4 linked regions of the Homo sapiens genome follow. The protein of the gene in region 3 interacts with the protein of the main gene of each other region in a biochemical or structural test. Each region holds a gene or a part of one and is shown on either strand. Other genes may lie near its edges. The genes, in order: CEP164, RPA3, ATRIP and MCM6.

Region 1 (5,267 bases), on a different chromosome or scaffold from region 3:
AAGCATAGAAAGAGTGTAAGGCATTAGCTGAGGGGCAGGAGGGGGTTCCAGAACCCACCATGCCACACCACAACCTCCACTCTGGGCTCAGGCTTCCTCGCTGTGTGCCCCTGCAGCCTCCCAGGAAGGCTCCACACCTTGTTTACTTCCTGCTGGGGCAAGGAGACGCAAAGGTGCCAACCCCAATGCCTTACAGGGGCTGACCTCTAGTTCTAATCCTGAGTGTGTTCCCTGGCCCAGAAAACAAAGTAACAAGGATGCCCCAGCTTGGAGATGGCCAGTGAGAGACTCTCACTCCAGAAGCTGTCAGGCTGCATCCTGCTGGGGCCATGCGTCTGCTCCCAGCACCTTCCTACTGTGCATGGAGGGGTCACAGTGGGCTCACCCTGCCCCAGGCCCCTCACCTGCTCCCTGTGCCGGCGCCGCAAGTCCTCAAGACGCTTGTGTTGCTCCTGCCTCACAGTCTCCAGTTCTCGTTCATGGGCCCTCTGCAGGCGCTCCAGCTCTCCGGTCAGGTGCCCCAGAAGCTCAGCCCGCTGCTTCCTCTCCTGCAAGGAGGGTGGGCCCACCGGTGGGAAGCTGCGGCAGCCCCTTCTACCACAAAAATCACAGCTCCCCTAGCCCTGCAGCCTTGCATCAGTAAGATCAGGGACACCATCGGCTCCCTAAAGCCAGCTCTTGGAGAAGAGGAGGGTTACAAGCACAGCACCGGCCCTGGCCCCAGCAAGCCTGCAGCCCTCTAGAGCTGAAGCAGAGGCTGGTCAGACACCACGACAGATTCCCTTTCTGGCTCTCCCTATGGCTCCACCATATACAACTTTTCCTCTGTAAGGAATGAGAGGTCACTGATAAATTATCACTATTCTTCAGCAAGGTCATAATTGGTTGGGGGAAGGGATATGGCAAATTTCATCATGGGACTGCTATTTCTGCCCTGGGAAAGATCCTAGAAAGAGTCTGGGATACTGGTTCCAGTTACTGGAGCAGTAGTCTTAACACCCTGCAGGGTCCCAGCTGTGGGCTATAGTCAGCCACCCTCTACCCACCCATTGTTCACCCTCAATGTGAGCAAGGCAGGCCAGCTTGGGTAAACTCAAGTCGCTGAACTTTCCTACCTTAAGACCAAAGGCTTAAAATGGGGAGAATATCAGTATTACTTGGCTCTTGCCAGTCTATTTCTTGGTGTCCCAAGATGTTGAGGAACCCTGGTGACACAGCATTGCAGTGAGGAAACTGAAGGCTTTGGAGTCAGATGGCCTGGGCTTGAATCCTAGCTCTTCTACTTATTGGCTGGGTGTGATCTTGGGAAGCTACTTAAACTCTCCAAGTCTCAGTGCCCTCATCTTTAAAATGGAGACAATGATAGTAGATCCTTCCTAAGGCTGGTGTGAGGACTAAATGAGTTAAAATAGATAAAGAGCTCAGAACAGTTCTTGGCACACAGTACAAGCTCAATGTATGGGGGTTCTTTTTACTATCAGAAGAAAGTACAGCCTGCCTGATAAAAGAGGAATTGCCCCCCATTAGGTGGAGGTTTTTCTCATGTTTTAATAAAAAAGGCAAAAAACATCATCGTGGCAGGGTACCAGGAAGGAAAACCTCCCACAATCCCTGACCACAGTTTATCCCCTTCCTCTGCCCCACAGCCAGGTGGGAAGGACCCCGGGGTGTGTGTGCATGTGCGTGCATGTGTGTGTGCATGTGTGTGTGCATGTGCGTGCATGTGTGTGTGCATGTGTGTGCATGCGCGCAGGGGATGTGGCTGAGCTACCTCAGCTTCATACTGCTCTCTGGCCTTAGCCATCACTTGCTGGTGCTCCTCCTTCATCTTGTCCAACCTCCTCTCATGCTCCCCTTCCACTTCCTGGCGCTTCTCTCGCAGGAGACTGCTGAGCTGCAGGGGAGATGGCAGGGATGTGGCATGAAGAACCGAGGCGGACCAGCACTCAGGGCCTGCTGCACCTGAAGGTCTTACACACATTTCCCCAATCTCCCCCAACACACACAACACATGCACATCACACAGCCATGACACCATGGTCAGCACACAGCCATACCCCAACACCCCCTCCCCACATGCATACAGGGGCATCAGATTGGAGGAGTACCTGGCTTCAAGGGAACTAAGGCATAAAAAGGGAACTAGAAATGCTAACCCCAGCTGAGCCATCCAAAGCAAACTGGAGGCCGCTGAGGCTAGGCCGGCTCAGCTGACTGTAAGAGAGTCCACAACAGGCGCACACGACTGTGGAAGACAGAGCAGCACTCACCTCGTGCTCATACCCAGCCACGTGATAAGACTTCTGGTGAACTCTGTGCTCCACTTGCCCAAGGCACTTCTGCAGCTGGGCCTCCTCTTTCTGTTGAGCTTCCTGTATCTTCTTCTGGAGGCTGGAGACCACCTGAGGAGGCCCCCGCACACACAGGGGAGTGTGACCCTCAGACAGACTGTACAGCTGCTGTGTGGGGATGTGTTCTGAGGACCTGGCATCCATCCCCCAGGGCTGGAGAGAGAGGCTCGCTGCCTAGTAGCCAGGGATGGGGCTGAATTCTGCTAATCAGCCATGAAGGGGGCCCAGGATGCTGCATCTTACCTCCCGGTGCTTGGCCTCCAATGAGGAGCAGAGCCGCTCCAGCTCAGCACTGTGCTCCTTCTCCAGCGTTGCCACAGCCTGGGGAGGAGCAAAGGGACTGTGAGTGAAGCTGGCCAGGTACTGATCATGGTGGGAGGCGGAGCCAGGAAGACTACCGACCCCCAAGCCCTCGAGATCAGGGTCAAGGGAAGCATGGGGAAGCACAGCACATCTTTGTTCCTCTGAAATAACTCAGCCCCTGAAGTCTACAACTGGCAAATGAACAGGAACATGAAGGTCAGAGGAGAGGGGCATTTCAGTAAGTTTCGGCTCTCTGCTCCCACCCCCTGCCTTTAGACTAGGCCACAGATCCACAGATGGTGCTCATGCTGGTAAATAAGATCCAAGCCAGGGGGGCCAGGTTGGATGCTGTCATTAAGTCGGGCCATGTAGAATTTTCTTTTTATTTTGGTGAGGTGCAAAGCTGCAGCTATTAGACAAGGAAAACACTACAGCAGGAGTAGGGAAGTGCACTGTACTACAAGTGCTCAGAGAGACTGTGCTAAAACCTTCAGAAGCCCACCATCTGACTGGAGTAGAAGAGGGAGTATGGACAAAGAGAAAATCCTTGCTATATTGCTAGCCTCTCATCCTAAGAAAGGAGAGAAAAGTGGGGAGTGAGGCCCTTGCAGCTGTCCCTCAGAGACAGTGAGGGACAGAGCGCCTTTGTCTCAAAACCTCTGGTCTGGCTAAATCTCTTTCAGTCACGAACTTTCTCAAATCCACAGGACGCTCTCCCTCAAGCCTCTGAGGGTTCTCTGCTTGACAACCTCCAGCCGCCACTGCCATCCAGCCTGACCCTGGAGGAGCCTTGTGATGCCTGCTGCATCCTCTGCCCTGTCATGAGCCGATTCGGTCCATATGGAGTAATGGGCCCAGGTGGTCATCTCGCTGTCTCCCATGCCTGTGTGTGTGAGACCTACTCTCCACCTGGCTCCCCAGCCTGCACGCCCACCCGAGACTTGCCCTTCTTCTCCTTGTGCACTCAGTCCCTCCCCAGGCAGCCCAGACACAGGTCAGAGGGTGAGGTCCCCACTTGACTAGCTCACTTCTTTCCTCTCCCCTTCCAGCTGCTCCCTCAGCTGCTGCAGAGCCTTCTCCTTTGCAGCATTCAGGGCAGCCTGCTCGCTCTTCTCCGAAGCCTCTATCTCTTCCTTGAGCTGCTCCAGCATTTGCCTATTTTTCTGTTCCAAGCTGGCCCTCTCAGCCTTCTGTTGAGACTCCAACTCTTCTCTCAGTTTCTGCAGGGAAGCCTCTTGCTCAGCCCTGGGTGGACACAGTGGAATGGTAACGGGCCTGTGCACCCTGGGGTCGCCTCCGCAGGGCTGGGCAGCTCACAGGTAAGCACACACTTACCTGATTTGGTCCTCATCTGCTTGTGTGCTGGACTGGACCTGAGCTCGGAGCCAGGATAGCCTCTGGCTTTCCTCCTCTCTCATCCGGGCCTCCTCCTCCTCAATGGCTTTCTGCAGCCGCTCCCTCAAGGAACTGAGATGGAAAGGAAAGGCTAGGTTGTCAGAGAAACCACAAAGGTCTTTCTTCTATTCATAAGCTATGGCTCTCAGCCTCCAATAGCCCTGTTGCCTGCCTAAGAAACTTCCTAAATCTTTTTTTTTTTTTTTCTTTTTGGAGACAGGTTCTTGCTCTGTTGTCCAGGCTGGAATGCAGTGGTGTGATCATGGCTTACTGCAGCCTTAAACTCCTGGGCTTAAGCAATCCTCTCGCCTCAGCATCCCATGTAGTTGGGACCACAGGCATGCACCATCAAACCCAGCTAATTGTTGAGATGGAGTCTCGCTATGTTGCCCAGGCTGGTCTTGAACTCCTAGGCTCAAGTGATCCTTCAGCCTCAGCCTCCCAAAGCACTGAGATTACAGGTGTGAGCCACTGCGCCCAGTCAAAGCTTCCTAAATCTTAAAGATGAGTCTAACCTTAGCCTCTAGGTCCACTGCTGCCTCCCTAATACCTCCCAGGATTACGAAGGGACCATGAACTCCCCTTTGCTTCAAGAAGCAAACTAATGGCCGGGCGTGGTGGCTCACACCCGTAATCCCAGCACTTTGGGAGGCCGAGGTAGGTGGATCACTTGAGGTCAGGAGTTCGAGACCAGCCTGGCCATAATGGCGAAACCCCGTCTCTACTAAAAATACAAAAATTAGCCGGGCATGGTGGCGCACACCTGTAATCCCAGCTACTTGGGAGGCTGAGACAGGAGAATTGCTGGAACCTGGGAGGCAGAGGTTGCAGTGAGCTGAGATCACACCACAGCACTCCAACCTGGGCAACAGAGCAAGACTCTATCTCCAAAAAAAAAAAAAAAAAAAAAGCAAACTACTGGCTTCTGGGTTTTGGTAGTACAGCACTTCTTCCAAAGGCTCCCCTCTGTCAACAGCTTCACCTCAGCATGGCACTCACTCAAGGATAGCTATAGCCACCCAACCAGATTCCACATTCTTTCACTCCGACAGACTCTGTTCTAGCCACATCAGCTGAGTCACCATCCCTCCATTCTACCACACTCTTCCTTCCTAGGTTCTCTGCCAAGAATTCCCTTTTCTATCTGGCAAACCCATATTCATTCCTCAACACTCAGCTCCCTCTCTGGGAAGTCTTTCCAACTCCCTACAAGCTCAT
Region 2 (5,267 bases), on a different chromosome or scaffold from region 3:
TCAGCAGTCTTTCTGTCGTTGCCCTCCACACTGCGAGACTCTGGAGGGCGATCTGGAGGTCTGGAAGATAACCGATTCCTGGGAGATTTGGGGGTAGTCTCCAATCTGTCCCTGGCTCATCTTGTGACCCGAAGCCGGCGGCCTTGCCAGGAGTATTCTAGAATGAGTGCACATAAAAATACCTTCAAACGGTACGGTGGAAATTGGACAGAAGTTTTAATTGGGTATTATAACGTTGTGGAAACTGAGTCTGTGAATTGGCCCAAAGCTACAGAATTGTCATCGTTCAAATTCCCTTAAGCAAAAAAGATCCGATTTGAGACTTCACGTGGCAATTTAAGATTGGAATCTCATGTACGATAATTAAATGATAGTCTCCCTTAGTGTTTCCTTAGCACTTAATAGGTTTGTCTTAGTTTTACTCACTAACGGTACTTTAAAGGATTTCATTAAACAGATGTAGAATGTGTGTCAGTGGTGTATAAAAAAGTTGTGGTTGTATTGGTGCAAGTCAGTAAAGTCTATTTTATATTACAGCTTTAAGTCTTTTGTACTTTAGCATTGTTTTGCAAAGCAAGTTGATGTGCATTATATAGGGGAGAGTACACACATCAATGTCTTTAATAGCATTTTTTTTTGAGGCAAGATCTCTCTCTGTCACCCAGACTGGAGTGCAGTAGCATGCACATAGCTCACTGCAGCCTTTAACTCGTAGGCTTAAGCGATCCTCTCACCTCAGCCTGCCAAGTAGCTGGGACTATAAGCACATACCACCACACCCAGCTAATAAAGATTTTTTTTTTGTTGTTTGTTTTTTTTTGTTCAGATGGGGCCTCGCCATGTTGACCAGGCTTATCTCAAACTCCTGGGCTCAGGCGATCCCTCCCTCCCCCGTCTCCCTCCCAAAGTACTGGAATTACAGGTGTGAGCCTTGGTGCGTACCCTGTAATAGTGATTTTTTTTTTTTTTAAAGAGCACTCCTGTGAGTACCAGATGTTAATGTCGTTGTTTACCTGCAGTTAGAAAGACCACTTTTAAGCAAAGGCTTTCTTTTAAAACAGGGAGATGAGCAGGAAGATAATTTAAAACAGCTTTTTCGTGTATTTTTGAGTCACTTAAAATATTATAAAATACATGATGTACAGAAAAAAGTATAGCTAGCCGATTTGCATAGTTTTGAGAGAAATGAAATGAATCCATGGGGCCTGTCATTCAGCTGAAGAAATGGAACTTTACCAGTTACCAGTAAATTTTACCAGTTTGCACTTCCCCAATGAAGCCCTCCTTGCTACAGCCATAAGTAAACACTATCTTGAAATTTGTGTTAAGCTTCCTAAGCTTTTCTAGGTGGTTTTATCACACATGCAGGCGTTGCTAAATGGTATGTTGTTTAATATTGCCAGTCTTTGACCTTTATATAAACAGAAACGTATGTATCTTCTGACTTCTTTTGTTTGTTTTTGAGATTCATCTATGTTGACGAATGTACGTAGATCATATTTTTTTTTCTGTTACAGGTAGGCATGAGTGGGACAGTAGTGGGCTCTCCCCCAACCCACTAGAAATGTTGGGGGATGGTTTGGCAATTACCGAATTTGCTTCTCTAAAAATGATAATTCTGCAGCGCCAGGGAGAGGCCATTTCCTGATGGTCCACACCTGTTATCAAAATGTTAATTGAATGTAGACCCGAGGGAGAAACAGCTTCCTGGGCATGCATATTAAGAGACAAAAATGGTAAAGTATGATCTTCCAGGTACACTCCACCGGAAAAAGGAAGGAAGCCTCAGATGGGCGTGCATGTAACTCCCTAAAAACACTTCCCAAGGCTAAGGAGGGCTCTGTGCCTGCCGGCAGCCTATCCTAAGGAAAGAATCATGGGAAATAGACAAGCTTGTAAAAGTCCTAGGATCAGGGCCGGGCGCGGTGGCTCACGCCTGTAATCCCAGCACTTTGGGAGGCTGAAGCGGGTGGATCACCTCAGATCAGAAGTTCAAGACCACCCTGGTCAACATGGTGAAACCCTGTCTCTACTAAATATACAAAAAAGTATCCAGGCGCGATGGCGGGGGCCTGTAGTCCCAGCTACTCGGGAGGCTGAGGCAGGAGAATGGCGTGAACCCGAGAGGCGGAGCTTGCAGTGAGCCGAGATCGCGCCACTTCACTCCAACCTGGGCCACAGAGCGAGACTCCCTCTCAAAAAAAAAAAAAACAAACAAACGAAAAAAAAAGGATCAACGGTTAAATCGGACACTTGACCTACTCTCTTTAACCTTCACATTCCCGCTTGGGTCTCTAACAAGCACACCTTCCTTTCTTCCTGTTTTAAGGCCTTTTAAAGTAAACTTCCATTCCTGCTCTGGAACTTGCCTGGGTCTCTGTTTCTGCTTTATGCCCCTCAGTCAAATTTTTTCGTCTGAGGAGGCAAGGACTGAAGTTGCTACTGACCCGTGAGGATAGGCCACCGGTAACTTGGGGTAACTTGGATCTCTGCCACTAGTAAAAAAATGATTTCCCCAAATGGTGGTACCAGTTTACTCTCTTACCTGGAGTATAAGACAGTTTACAGTTATTGTATATTCTTGGCAACTCTTGGAGTTTTTTCCCCCAATTTGATGGATATGAAGTGTTTTTTTGTCGTGACCCTAATTTGCACTCCCTGATTACTGAAAAGTTTGAACATTTTTTCAGATTTTTATTGGTTATTTATGTTTATCTTTTTTTCCTTGATTTTTCTTTTTCTTACTGACTTTTAAGAGCTTTTTATTAGTGAGATATTGTAATGGTACAAGTGTTGTCTGTTTTTGGCCTATCTTTCCGTTTCCTTCCTTCATTCCATCCTTTTTTTTTTTTTATTAGGAAGACCTCTTTTAATATAGTTAAACATTTTCCCCCTTAAGTTTAATGTAGGAGAAAAGTCCATTAAAATCTCATTTATGAATTCTTTGATACATCGTACTCTTAAAGGTATTCTATTTTTCCTAAAATGTTTAGAGTTTTGCCTTTCATATTTAATAGTCCGTCATCTAGAATTCACTCTTCATGTATGTTGTCAGATAAGTCTCCAATCTCTGTTTTGTTTTAATTTCAGTTGTCCTAATGTGATTTGACTGTATCACCTTTTTGCCACCTTCACTTGTCACCTTAAGTTTACAGATATGTGTGGAGTCAATTCTATTCTATGGATCTATTTTTCTATCCCTGAACCACTACCTATTTTCTTTAATAGTGTAGCTTATCATAACTTTTGATGTCTGGGGCTGTGTTCTCGGGAATGTCTTGGTTATTTTTGTCTCTTTGCTCTTCTGTATAGAATGTAGCTTATGAATTTCCAGGAAAAACTGTGTTGGAATTTTGATCAAAATTGCACTGTATCCTTGGATGTATTTCAGGAAAAGTAACACCTGAATGTCAACTCTTACTATCCTTGAGCCATTTTGGTCCTCTTAAAATCTTTCCAAAAGGTCTCATACTTTTCTACATAAAAGTTTTGACTTTTAGCTTAGATTTATTCCTAGATACCTTGTTTTTGTTGCTATTATGAATGGTATCATTTTTTAAATTAAAGATTTTAACTGATTGTTTTGGTATATAGAAATGCCATTTTAAGAATTTTCTATCAGTTTTTTTTGGAATTTTCTATTCATATTTGAATAATTATAGTTTTGTTTCTTAAGAATTCTTACATATTTTATTTATCTTTCTTACCTTTTGCCTAGGATAGAGCCTTCAGTACCATTTTGAATAGAAATAGTGTTTAAGTCAAGATGGGGTTTAGCTGCATAAACAAAAGTATCTTTAATGCACAAACGCTTATTCTCACATGTGAAAGAAGTCCACAGCTGTGCAACTTAGTACTTATGTGGTAGTGCACTAAGACTCAGGGCCCCAGGTTCTTTCTGTCTTTCTGTAGTTCTACATTCAATATCTAGTTCCATATTTATGGTTATCTCATAGGCCAGGTAAGTGATGGAGCTTCAGCTATCAAGTAAATCCACGTTCTATGTGGCAGAGAAGTGGACCCGCATTCAGCTTCCTTTAAGGAGTATTCCCCGAAGTCCTTCCCAACTTGAATTTCTGTTTATTAGATTAAGGAATTTTCCTTCTATTCCTAGTTTGATAAGCATTTTAATTGAATTGTTACGGAATTTGATCAAATGCATTTTTTGCCTTAATTGAGATGATTGAAATGAGTATGTATTTTTCAGTGTTTGAACCAAGCTCACATTCTTGGAAGCTTGGTTATGATATATTGTCTTTTATATATATTCCTGGATTTGATTTGCTGTTGTTTTTGTTTAGGATTTTTTTTTTTTTAATCTATGTTCATGAGTGAGATTGGTCTGTAATTTTCCTTTTTTGTATAGTCCTTGTCAAAATTTGGCATTATGGTTATAAGACAGGAGAATTCCCTGGACCCCTTTGTGGGACTTGGAACCAGGGTGTGGCTCGTTTGCTCGGCTGCCGTGTACTCAAACCCCTTACGGGAGAGGGAGCATGCAGGTGAGCAGGTGCAGGAGTTGGGGTGAGTGATTTGGGCCTCCAGCCCCATGGCAGTGTCTAGGGGCGTTACAGTGCTCTTTTAGCCCTGCCGTCTGGGAATGGCTTAAGTGTTAAATAGCTCAGTAGAGTCAGTGTGACAGCCTTTTTGGGTTCCCACACCCAGTGCATCCTGAATTCTTGTCTAGCATCGAGGAGGAATCAGGTTACATGGGCTTGAAAGATGGTGAATGTGGGCATTTTATTGAGTGATGGAGGTGGCTCTCAGTGGGATGGTGATACGGTTTGGCTGTGCCCCACTCAAATCTCATCTTGAATTGTAGCTCCCATAATTCCCATGTGTTGTGGGAGGGACCCGATGAGAGATAACTGAATCATGGGGACAGTTTCCCCCATACTGTTCTCGTGGTAGTGAATAAGTCTCACGAGATCTGATGGCTTTATAAGGGGAAACCCCTTTCGCTGGATTTTTTTTTTTTTTTTTTTTTTTTTAATTCTCTCGTCTGACACCATGTAAGACGTACCTTTTGCTTTCCGCCATGATTGTGAGGTCTCCCCAGCCACGTGGAACTGTGAGTCCATTAAACCCCTTTTTCTTTATAAATTACCCAGTCTCAGGGGTGTCTTTATCAGCAGTATGAAAATGAACTAATACAGATGGGGAGCTGGAGAGGGGATGGAGTGGGAAGATGATCTTCCCTTGGAGTTCGGCTGTCCCATGGCCAATCTCCTCTCTGACCGTCCCCAGCCAAACTCCCCTCGACACTC
Region 3 (5,267 bases):
CAGTAAAAGACAAACAATGAAAAATACATATGAAAGTCTGCTGTGACATAAATGTCCTAAAATATTAAACATTAGCTTTCTTTCTGAAAGACAATATGGTACTCTAAAAAGATACTGGACTCTATTGTAAGGGTAGTTTGTGAGGGTTTAAATACCAGCCCTGGCCGGGTGTGGTGGTTCAGGCCTGTAATCCTAAGCACTTTGGGAGGTTGAGGCGGGAGGATCATTTGAGCCCAGGAGTTCGAGACCAGCCTGGGCAAAATAGCAAGATCTTGCCTCTACAAAAAATTTAAAAAATAAAAAAAAGAATTAAATACCAGCCCACCATTTATTTAATGTCTTTGAATCCTAACTTATTTGTAACATAAAACACCTGTCTTCATGATAGTTGGGAGGATTAAGTAGAATGATGAGTGTAAAATACCCAGCATAGAGCTTGGTAAGGTGCCCTATGTCAGCAGTAACATATTGACCTTTATTAACGAACGCACTGGTGCACAATTCCAGGTCTTCCTCAAAGTTTGGGCAGAGTAGTTGGAATAGTTTACCAAGACACTGTGCAGTATAGAGAGACCTGCTGCTCTGGCCTGCAGTTGCTACAGCCAACAGTAACTGCCATCATTCCCCAAGCACACTCTGCGCCAGGCCCAGCACCAGACACAGTAAGTGCAAGAATGTGTGAGTCTCCCAACAACCTTTCTGGTTATGTCTTGGAACAGATAAGGGAAATGAGCCAGGGAGCTTAAGTTATTACCTTGAGGTCACTGCTTATGTGTGATGAAGCCTGGATTCAAATTCAGGTTTGTCTGACCGCAAATTCCTTGCTCTTCATCACTTATACAGAAAGTTAACTATTGCGGTTAATGATGGGCACAGGTAAGTGCTTAAAGTTTGCTAAGTTTGCTGAATGAAACAATGAGAATAAGATCCCATGTCCTTGAGATTGAAGCATGAGGAGGTGCTGAGGGAAAGTTGTAGTAGGTACTGGATACCTACTGTTTTTCCTTCCAGAATAGCATTTTCCTTTCCCTGAGAAACAGGCTGGGCATTGTGGCTCACGCCTGTAATCTCAGCACTTTGGAAGGCCAAGGTGGGAGGACTGCATGAGCCCAGGAGCTTGAGAACGGCTTGGAGAATACAGCAAAACCCTGTCTGTACCAAAATTTAAAAATTAGCTTTGCCTGGTGGTGTGTGCCTATAGTTCCAGCTACCTGGGAGGCTGAGATGGGAGGATTGCTTGAGCCTGGGAGGTCAAGGCTGCAGTGAGCTGTGATTGCACCACTGCACTCCAGCCTGGGCAAGAGAGTGAAACCCTGGACCCTGTCTCAAAAAAAAAAAAAAAAAAAAAAAAATTCAATAATTTCCCTACCTCTGACTATTTTATTAGAATGGGAGCTGTCATTTTTTTGCTTTTGGTTGCTTTTGGTTATAGCAATTGGCCAGGGACAGACAACTGACTCAAGTTAAACCAATCAGAGCCTTTCTCAGAATTTTAAAACTTGAGATGAGGGAGCCTAAGTCTTTTTTTGAAACAGGGTCTCGCTCTATTGCCCAGGCTGGAGTACAATGGCATGATCATGGCTTACTGCAGCCTCAACCTCCTGGGCTCAAGCAATTCTCCCACCTCAGCCTCCTGAGTAGCTGGGACTACAGGTGCACACCACCATGCCTGGATAATTTTGTTCATTTTTTCTTTTTCTTTTTTGTGGAGATGAGGTCTCACTAGTTGCCCAGGCTGGTCTCGAACTCCTGGCTCAAGTAATCCTCTCACCTCAGCCTCCCAAAGTGCTGGATTATAGGTGTGAGCCACTGCATGTGGCCCTAAGTCTTAATTCTGCTCTGTATTTATAAAATATGAGCCCAGGAGCTTCTGGAGAACACACCCTCTACCATAAGTATAGAGCCTGTTTATAGCATAGAGAATAAAAATGTCCTGGCAAGATTTAAGTCATTTAAGGTCCCAGCATACCCCGGTTCTTCCCAGACTTGGATATGGAAGCCAATACGTTTCCTTTTAGCCTAAGCCAGGTCAGTTGAGTTTCTGATCTAGCAAAAGAGCCTTAATGTAAACCTGTTTCTAGAAATGCTAAGCTAGTTATTTACTCCTGCCAAGACCAACTACCACAGCAAAATAGAGTTTCATCTAAATCCCTTTCCAAAATATATCCAGACCCTGGAAGAAGAGTGGATGGCAATGAGATGATAGCAGAAAGTATTTAAGACAAACAAGTGTTGAAATCTCCCTGGAAGATTTACAGGCAACCCTGGTCAAAGGAACTCAGTGGGCAGGCAAAGCTGGTGCAAAACAAATGCTCTGGGTCACCTTTTTGGAGAATTCCTTTTCCTTGTCACTGAGTGCTTGGGTTTTCTCTTGCTCAAGAAGAAAATGTGATCTTCTCTGTTCCTCTAGAACGGATTCCGTCTGATGTAGTGAGTCTCGCAAAATTTTAATTTCTCCATTCTTAATGAGAACTTCTTCTTCCATTACTTTCATCTGTAAATCCCAAATTAATCTCGTGAAAACTTTGTAAGAGAAAACTACTTAGGTACTTTGTTTTAACATGTAGTTGGGGAGATGGAGAAAGCACAGGAAAAACAGACAAATGAGTACTCAAAATATATCCACAGCAACCAGATGTCACCATGGTCTGCTAGGCCTGTTCATGGGACAGCTGATATTCATCAAGATAGCTTAAGCATACACTTGCCACTCATGCATGCAGATTCTTTTTGCCAGGGAGGGGGATGGGGTTGCTTAGGCTGGAATGCTGTGGCACAATCATAGCTCAATGTAACCTTGAACTCCTGGGCTCAAGTGATCCTCTCGCCTCAACCTCTTGAGTAGCTAGGACTACAAAGCATGTGCCACTAGCCTGGCCAATTTTCACTTTTATCTGTAGAGACAGGGTCTCATTGTATTGCCCAGGCTGGTCTTGAACTCTTGGGTTCAAGCGATTCTCTCACCTTGGCCTCCCAAAGTGCTGGGATTACAGGCATGAGCCACCTTGCCTGACCAGATTCCTTTTTTTTTTTGAGACGGAGTCTTGCTATTGTCGCCTAGGCTGGAGTGCAATGGCACGATCTCGGCTCACTGCAACCTTCACCTCCCAGGTTCCAGCAATTCTCCTGCCTCAGCCTCCCGAGTAGCTGAGATTACAGGTGCCCGCCACCATGCCTAGCTAATTTTTGTATTTTTAGTAGAGACGGGTTTTCACCATGTTGGCCAGGCTGGTCTTGAACTCCTGACCTCAGGTGATCCACTGGCCTCGGCCTACCAAAGTGCTGGGATTACAGGTGTGAGCCACCGCGCCTGGCCGGATTCTTTAGGCTCTAAGAGGCATTAACGATCTGGGTCGCTGGGTGTGGTAGCTCATGCCTGTAATCCCAACACTTTGGGAGGCTGAGGCCAGGAGTTTGAGACCAGCCTGGCCAACATGGTGAAACTCCGTCTCTACTAAAAATACAAGAATTAGCTGGGCGTCGTGGTGCACACCTGTAGTCCCAGCTACTCTGGAAGCTAAGGCATGTGAATCGCTTAAAACCAGGAGGCAGAGGTTGAAGTGAGCCAAGATTGTGTCACTGTACTCCAGCCTGGATGACAGACTCCATCTCCAAAAAAAAAAAAAAAAAAAATCTGGGTCACATACCTTGCACAACTAAAATTCCACATATTCCTGGTTTTCTTAGGGACCTACAGATGGTGATATGAAGTGTCTGCTTTCTTGCAAAGCTGCTAATGAAAATAGCAACCATTATGAAGTTGTATTATTCACATGAAGATACATGCTATAAATTCATCTTAGTACCCTAACAGTTTGTATCTCTTTTTGGATCTGGTATACAGTGTTTTTCTTCTTGCCTTTGGCATTAGGAATCTCACAATTTAGTTTCTTTCAGCCTAAACTTTCTGGTTTTCTTTCCCTAGTCTTTTCCCATGTCATAGGGATGAATCTAGACACTTGTTTTACAACTTTTGTATATTTTACTGTACAATGCTTTTAAACACGTAAGTGAATGAATTAGCTACAAAAACCACAAGTTAAGTCACTTACCTTTTCTTTAAGTTCTTTGTATTGTGCCTGAAGTACCTCTAATTCGAAATTATCTTTAATTGGAACAGTTTCTCTGTTTTTCCCTGAAGGATTTTTTGACATGCCATCTAATAATCTGTGGACCTTATGATCACCTGTAAAAAATAGTTCCATATACATTTCAGGACCCAATATTTTCCCACTTTTGCCAGAAAATGCTGAAAATACCCACTTTTTTTTTTTTTTTCTTTTTTGAGATAGGGTCTTGCTCTGTTACCCAGGTTGGAGTGCAGTGGTGTGATCACTGCTTACTGCCACCTTGACCTCCTGGGTTCAAGTGATCCTCCTGCCTTAGCCTCCTGTGTAGCTGGGACTACAGGTGTGTGCCACCATGCCTGGCTTTTTTTTTTTTTTTTTTTTTGGATTTTAGTAGAGATGGCGTTTCACCATGTTAGCCAGGCTGGTCTTGATTTCCTGTCCTCGCGATCCACCCGCCTCAGCCTCCCAAAGTGTTGGGATTACAGGCGTCAGCCACTGTGCCTGGATGCCTGGCTAATTTTAAAATTCTTTGTAGAGATTGGGTCTCCTTATGTTGCCCAGGTTGGTCTTGAACTCCTGGGCTTAAGCAATCCTCCTGCCTTTGCCTCCCAAAGTGCTGGGAAGAATTACTCTTGAGAGCAAAGCAGGGAAAGATCTAGTAAGCAATATAGATGTTTTTCAACCTAAGAACATGGTTCAAACTCATAAATGATCCTTCTTTTTTTTTTTTTTTTTTTTTGAGACAGAGTCTCGCTCTGTTGCCCAGGCTGGAGAGCAGTGGCGTGATCTCGGCTCACTGCAACCTCCACCTCCCAGGTTCAAGCGATTCTTGTGCCTCACCCTCCTAGGTAGCTGGAATTACAGGCGTGTGCTACCACGCCCGGCTAATTTTTATATTTTTAGTAGAGACGGGGTTTCACCATATTGGCCAGCCTGGTCTCAAACTCCTCGCCTCAAGTGATCAGCCCACCTTGGCCTCCCAAAGTGCTGGGATTACAGGCGTGAGCCACCACACCCGGCTGAAACTCATAAATGATCCTTCTAAAACAACAGATCCTATTATTCTTTCCCTATCCTTCATCCAATTCCAAGAGTCTCATCTAAAGCCTGAGGAGATCTCATTGGCCAGAACTCAATGATCTACTTATTATTCAGTAATAGTTACTGACCACATGCAATATGCCAGGCATGTTAGGC
Region 4 (4,926 bases), on a different chromosome or scaffold from region 3:
TCACCACTCCTGTAAACTCCAGATGTATAGAGCTGGTTGCCTACTGATGAGCGTTTAACAGGCATCTCGTGCTTAATGTGTTCAAAAACAGAGTTGTTCTTCCCTGTTTGCAGTTGAGTTGTTCTTACTCAATTGCTATAGGCCAAATGCCTTGGAATTGTCTTTGACTCCTTGATTCCACTCTCCCCTCACAGCTCCTCTTCAGCAGCAAATCCTCTGACCCCCAGCTTCAGTGTGTGTATATTTTCTTTTCTCTTTTTACCGCCTTCACCAGCCCACCCAAGCCACCAGGCATGGACTGTTGCAGAAGCCTCATAAAATTGTCCTTTTTTTGTATTGGCTTCTTGCTCAGCAGCCAGATAAGTCTTTTTAAAATATAAATCAGATTATTTTACTACCCTCCCTTCCAGTGCTTCTCTCACATTAGAAGGAAATTCAGCCTCCTTGTCATGGCCTGCAGAACTATTATACAGTGTAACCCCTGTCCCCTCATTCACCTAATTTCACAGCAGTCTTCCCCATACCCATTTCACCCCAGTGACACTGGCCTTGATCCCTAGGCACACCAAATATGAGGGCCTTTGCACTCACCCTTTGTCCATTTCCCTAGATATCCTCCTCCTCTCCAATGTCTGCTCAAATGTTACCTCTTCAAAGAAACCTTTCTTGCTAGCCTGCCAAAATAGTAGCCTTCTGCTCTTGCTGTCACCCTGCCTTGTATTTCTTCGTAATGTTTAACATGGCCCAGCAGTATATTCTTTATTTAAGTGGTTAGTTTGTCTCTCTTATGGAATATAAGCTCTGTGAGGGTAGAGACTTTGCCCCGGAGCTACAGTGGTACCTGGCACATAGCAGGATCAAATATATGTTGAATGGTTAAATTTTCCTATTATGTGGCAGAGATTTAACTGTCGTGCCAATTCACAGGGCTCACTATATAAATATTACAGAGGTCATGTATTGGGGTTGTGTCTTCTCAAAAACCGTTTTCCTGTGAAGGTAGATCAGTCTGTGATTATTGAGGGGTAGGGAGGTGTAAGAACAGCTACTCAGATCAGGGTCCAGAGTTGCTTTTCTAGTGGTGGGACATGTCTGTGTGCTCCTTGGGATCAGTGTAAAGTAAAACGACCCAGGCAAGGAATCTGCTTCAGGACTTTGGAACACACTGTGAAGCTAACTGATCTAAACTTGAATTACCTATTTATTTATTTATTTATTTATTTATCTTTTGAGAGAGTCTTGCTCTGTTGCCCAGACTGGAGTGCAGTAGCATGATCTCAGCTCGCCGCAACTTCCGCCTTCTGGGTTTAAATGATTCTCTTATCTCAGCCTCCAGAGTAGCTGGGATTACAGGTGCCCGCCACCACTCCCAGCTAATTTTTGTATTTTTAGTAGAGATGGTGTTTCACCATGTTGGCCAGGCTGGTCTCAAACTCCTGACCTCAGGTGATCCACCCACCTCAGCCTCCCAAAGTGCTGGGATTACAGGCATGAGCTACTGCGCTCAGCCTGGATTACCTTTTAAAATTTGGCTTACCACCTGAACTAATTTGCTACAGAAAACTAGAGAGCTTATACTGTGCTGATGAGATATGATGCTTCCTATGAAGGTATGTTAACACATAGAGTGAGTGCTTGAAAGTGTCCAATCTAACTTCAGGGGTAGATTTGAAAGGGCAATTTTTTAAAAAGTGTCCAGTCCCCCTTAGTGGCTTCAGTGTTTATACTGTGGAGCCTTGCCAGACTTCTTAGGATCAAATCACAGTTTCCTGAGTTCCTTTCTATGGGCTTGGCTAGGAGCTCTTCTCATTTGTGGACAGTTTTGACTAACCTGTAATTATATCGTGGGCTTAAAATCTGTCATCAAGATTTTAAGCCAGATGGCATGTTCTACCTTTTTTTTTATTAGCTCAGAGTGAAAAATTTTTCAGATGAATTTTCATAGATTCTTCTCCTAACTCTATGAAATGGTGGTATATGAAAAAGTTCAGTGGTCATAATTAAAAATTGCTGAATGATATTAAGTATGAAACAGACTTCCAATTAATTAGAAGATTTTGCAGAGTTGTTTAACCTTAAAATTCAAGCATTACTTCCTTTTTTGAAGTTGTATTTACAAGCATTTGATGTAATATATTTAAGTATTTCTTAATTTTCCACAAGGGGTTTATGGTATGAAAAGGTCAGCATCCTACTAGGAACAGGGTTTAGCAGAGCACTGATAGTGATTTTTAAAGTGTGGTCCTTTTCCTAGGAGTTTCTAGTTGGGAAATGAAAGAAAATGTTGATAGCAAACACTCGGAAGAAGGGTCAAGTCTTGTATATCTGGACATTGGTATAATACTGCTTGAAACCTGAGGACAAATATTTGTGTTTCACAGGATCATGTTCTAATTGAGCTCACCCAGGCTGGATTGAAAGGCTCCACAGAGGGAAGTGAGAGCTATGAAGAAGATCCCTACTTGGTAGTTAACCCTAACTACTTGCTCGAAGATTGAGATAGTGAAAGTAACTGACCAGAGCTGAGGAACTGTGGCACAGCACCTCGTGGCCTGGAGCCTGGCTGGAGCTCTGCTAGGGACAGAAGTGTTTCTGGAAGTGATGCTTCCAGGATTTGTTTTCAGAAACAAGAATTGAGTTGATGGTCCTATGTGTCACATTCATCACAGGTTTCATACCAACACAGGCTTCAGCACTTCCTTTGGTGTGTTTCCTGTCCCAGTGAAGTTGGAACCAAATAATGTGTAGTCTCTATAACCAATACCTTTGTTTTCATGTGTAAGAAAAGGCCCATTACTTTTAAGGTATGTGCTGTCCTATTGAGCAAATAACTTTTTTTCAATTGCCAGCTACTGCTTTTATTCATCAAAATAAAATAACTTGTTCTGAAGTTGTCTATTGGATTTCTTTCTACTGTACCCTGATTATTACTTCCATCTACTTCTGAATGTGAGACTTTCCCTTTTTGCTTAACCTGGAGTGAAGAGGTAGAACTGTGGTATTATGGATGAGGTTTCTATGAGAAGGAGTCATTAGAGAACTCATATGAAAGCTAGAGGCCTTAGAGATGACTTTCCAAGGTTAATTCCAGTTGTTTTTTTTTTTTTTTAAGTTTATAAAAGTTTATTATACTTTTTTAAAATTACTCTTTAGTAATTTATTTTACTTCTGTGTCCTAAGGGTAATTTCTCAGGATTGTTTTCAAATTGCTTTTTTAGGGGAAATAGGTCATTTGCTATATTACAAGCAATCCCCAAATTTTATGGTCTTCCAGGAAAAGTTATTACCGTTTATGATACTAACAGTTCCTGAGACTTAGCTATGATCAGTATGTTCATGAGGTGGAGCAGTTCCTGTGTTGCAGCTTTTAACAACAGATGGCATTCATTAAATCACAAAGTATGTTAAAGGTCACAAAAGCAAAATAACTGTCTGAGGCTAAGGCCCACGTGGGACAGTCTAATACCCATGAGTACTCAACTTGCCTTGATGTCTGAGCTTTCCAGTGCAATGTGAATTTGAGCAGCCAGAAATCTATTAGTAGAAAGCAAGACAGATTAATATAGGTTAAAACAATGATTTAAATATGTTTCTCCCAATAATTATCTCTTTCCCTGGAATCAACTTGTATGAAACCTTGTCAAAATGTACTCCACAAGTATGTACAATTAAGTATTTTAAAAATAAATGGCAAACATTAAAAACAAGAGTGAATACTCAAGTAGATTTGTCATGGGATTTTTATAAGAAGACTGGTATCAGGTAATGTATCTTTAAAGACTAGGCTGCTCTGCTGACGTAGTAACCATTTTTTATTCCTTTACTTTCCTAATAGCCTTGCTTTCACTTAAGAAAAAAAAAGGCTAGGCACGGTGGCTCACGCCTGTAATCCCAGCACTTTGGGAGGCCAAGGTGAGTAGATCACCTGAGGTCAGGAGTTCGAGACAAGCCTGGCCAACGTGGAGAAAACCTGTCTCTACTAAAAGTACAAAAATTAGCCAGGCATGGTGGTGGGCACCTGTAATCCCAGCTACTCAGGAGGTTGAGGCAGGAGAATTGCTTGAACCCAAGAGGTGGAAGTTGCAGTGAGCTGAGATCATGCCACTGCCCTCCAGCTTGGGCGGCAACAACAACAACAAAAAAAGATTCCCAGGCTTCACCCTCTACAGTCTATGGAAAGTCATGGGAGTCTATTAAAAAAAAACAGACACTATAAACCAAATTAAAAGATGGGAAAATTTTTCTATCACGTTTTAATATGTGATATCCAAACTCCCATTAAGAATTTTTATATCAGTAATAAGATAAAACTCAGAAGAAAAATGCCCAATTAACAAGAAGAGCTTCACCTCTTAAATAATCAGAAAAAGAAAAGCACATAATATTTACGTCAAAGTATCAAAAATGTAAAAGTTTTATAATAGGCATTAGCAAGGCAGACGGATACAGGCACACATCTAACTCTATGTAGGATTTAACTTGGAAGACAATTTGCATTTCAATCAATCAAAAACCATTTTTTTTTTTGAGATGATCTCCCTGTGTTGCCCAGACTGGCCTCAAGCTCCTGGGCTTGAGCAGTCCTACAGTCTGAGCCTCCAAAAGTACTGGCAAAACAGGCGTGATTGACCATGCCCAGCCTGTATATAAGGATATTCATTTGCAGCATTGTTTGCAACACAAAAATGTAAAACCAACCGGTGTTTAATATGCAAGATGTTAATTTATGGTACATTCTTGCTGTGGAAAGCTATGCATCTGTTAGAGGTGGGTCTATATGTTCTGATACAGGCAGAACTCTAAGAGCTATTAAGTGAAGAAAAGGCTGAAAATACATATGGCATAATTCCATATATGTTAAATTGTTCTATATTTTAAATGTTATACACGTTTCCATTTGTATTTACGTAATAATAATGATCCCTG

What was found.
Region 1: the proteins of ATRIP (region 3) and CEP164 form a complex in vitro, tested with the Homo sapiens proteins (one study listed by BioGRID).
Region 2: the proteins of ATRIP (region 3) and RPA3 form a complex in vitro, tested with the Homo sapiens proteins (one study listed by BioGRID).
Region 4: the proteins of ATRIP (region 3) and MCM6 form a complex in vitro, tested with the Homo sapiens proteins (one study listed by BioGRID).

Annotation. Positions count from the first base shown.
Region 1 is NC_000011.10:117,389,631-117,394,897, reverse strand, and holds part of CEP164 (centrosomal protein of 164 kDa), read right to left. Parts: intron 4,122-5,267; coding exon 3,990-4,121; intron 3,900-3,989; coding exon 3,683-3,899; intron 2,673-3,682; coding exon 2,595-2,672; intron 2,403-2,594; coding exon 2,271-2,402; intron 1,895-2,270; coding exon 1,772-1,894; intron 549-1,771; coding exon 405-548; intron 1-404. UniProt on the Homo sapiens protein: Plays a role in microtubule organization and/or maintenance for the formation of primary cilia (PC), a microtubule-based structure that protrudes from the surface of epithelial cells. Plays a critical role in G2/M checkpoint and nuclear divisions.
Region 2 is NC_000007.14:7,641,515-7,646,781, forward strand, and holds part of RPA3 (replication protein A 14 kDa subunit), read right to left. Parts: intron 1-5,267. UniProt on the Homo sapiens protein: As part of the heterotrimeric replication protein A complex (RPA/RP-A), binds and stabilizes single-stranded DNA intermediates that form during DNA replication or upon DNA stress.
Region 3 is NC_000003.12:48,448,956-48,454,222, reverse strand, and holds part of ATRIP (ATR-interacting protein), read right to left. Parts: intron 4,187-5,267; coding exon 4,053-4,186; intron 3,731-4,052; exon of another isoform or gene 3,648-3,730; intron 2,495-3,647; coding exon 2,324-2,494; intron 1-2,323. UniProt on the Homo sapiens protein: Required for checkpoint signaling after DNA damage. Required for ATR expression, possibly by stabilizing the protein.
Region 4 is NC_000002.12:135,838,407-135,843,332, reverse strand, and holds the end of MCM6 (DNA replication licensing factor MCM6), read left to right. Parts: intron 1-2,381; coding exon 2,382-2,498; 3' UTR 2,499-3,707; downstream 3,708-4,926. UniProt on the Homo sapiens protein: Acts as a component of the MCM2-7 complex (MCM complex) which is the replicative helicase essential for 'once per cell cycle' DNA replication initiation and elongation in eukaryotic cells.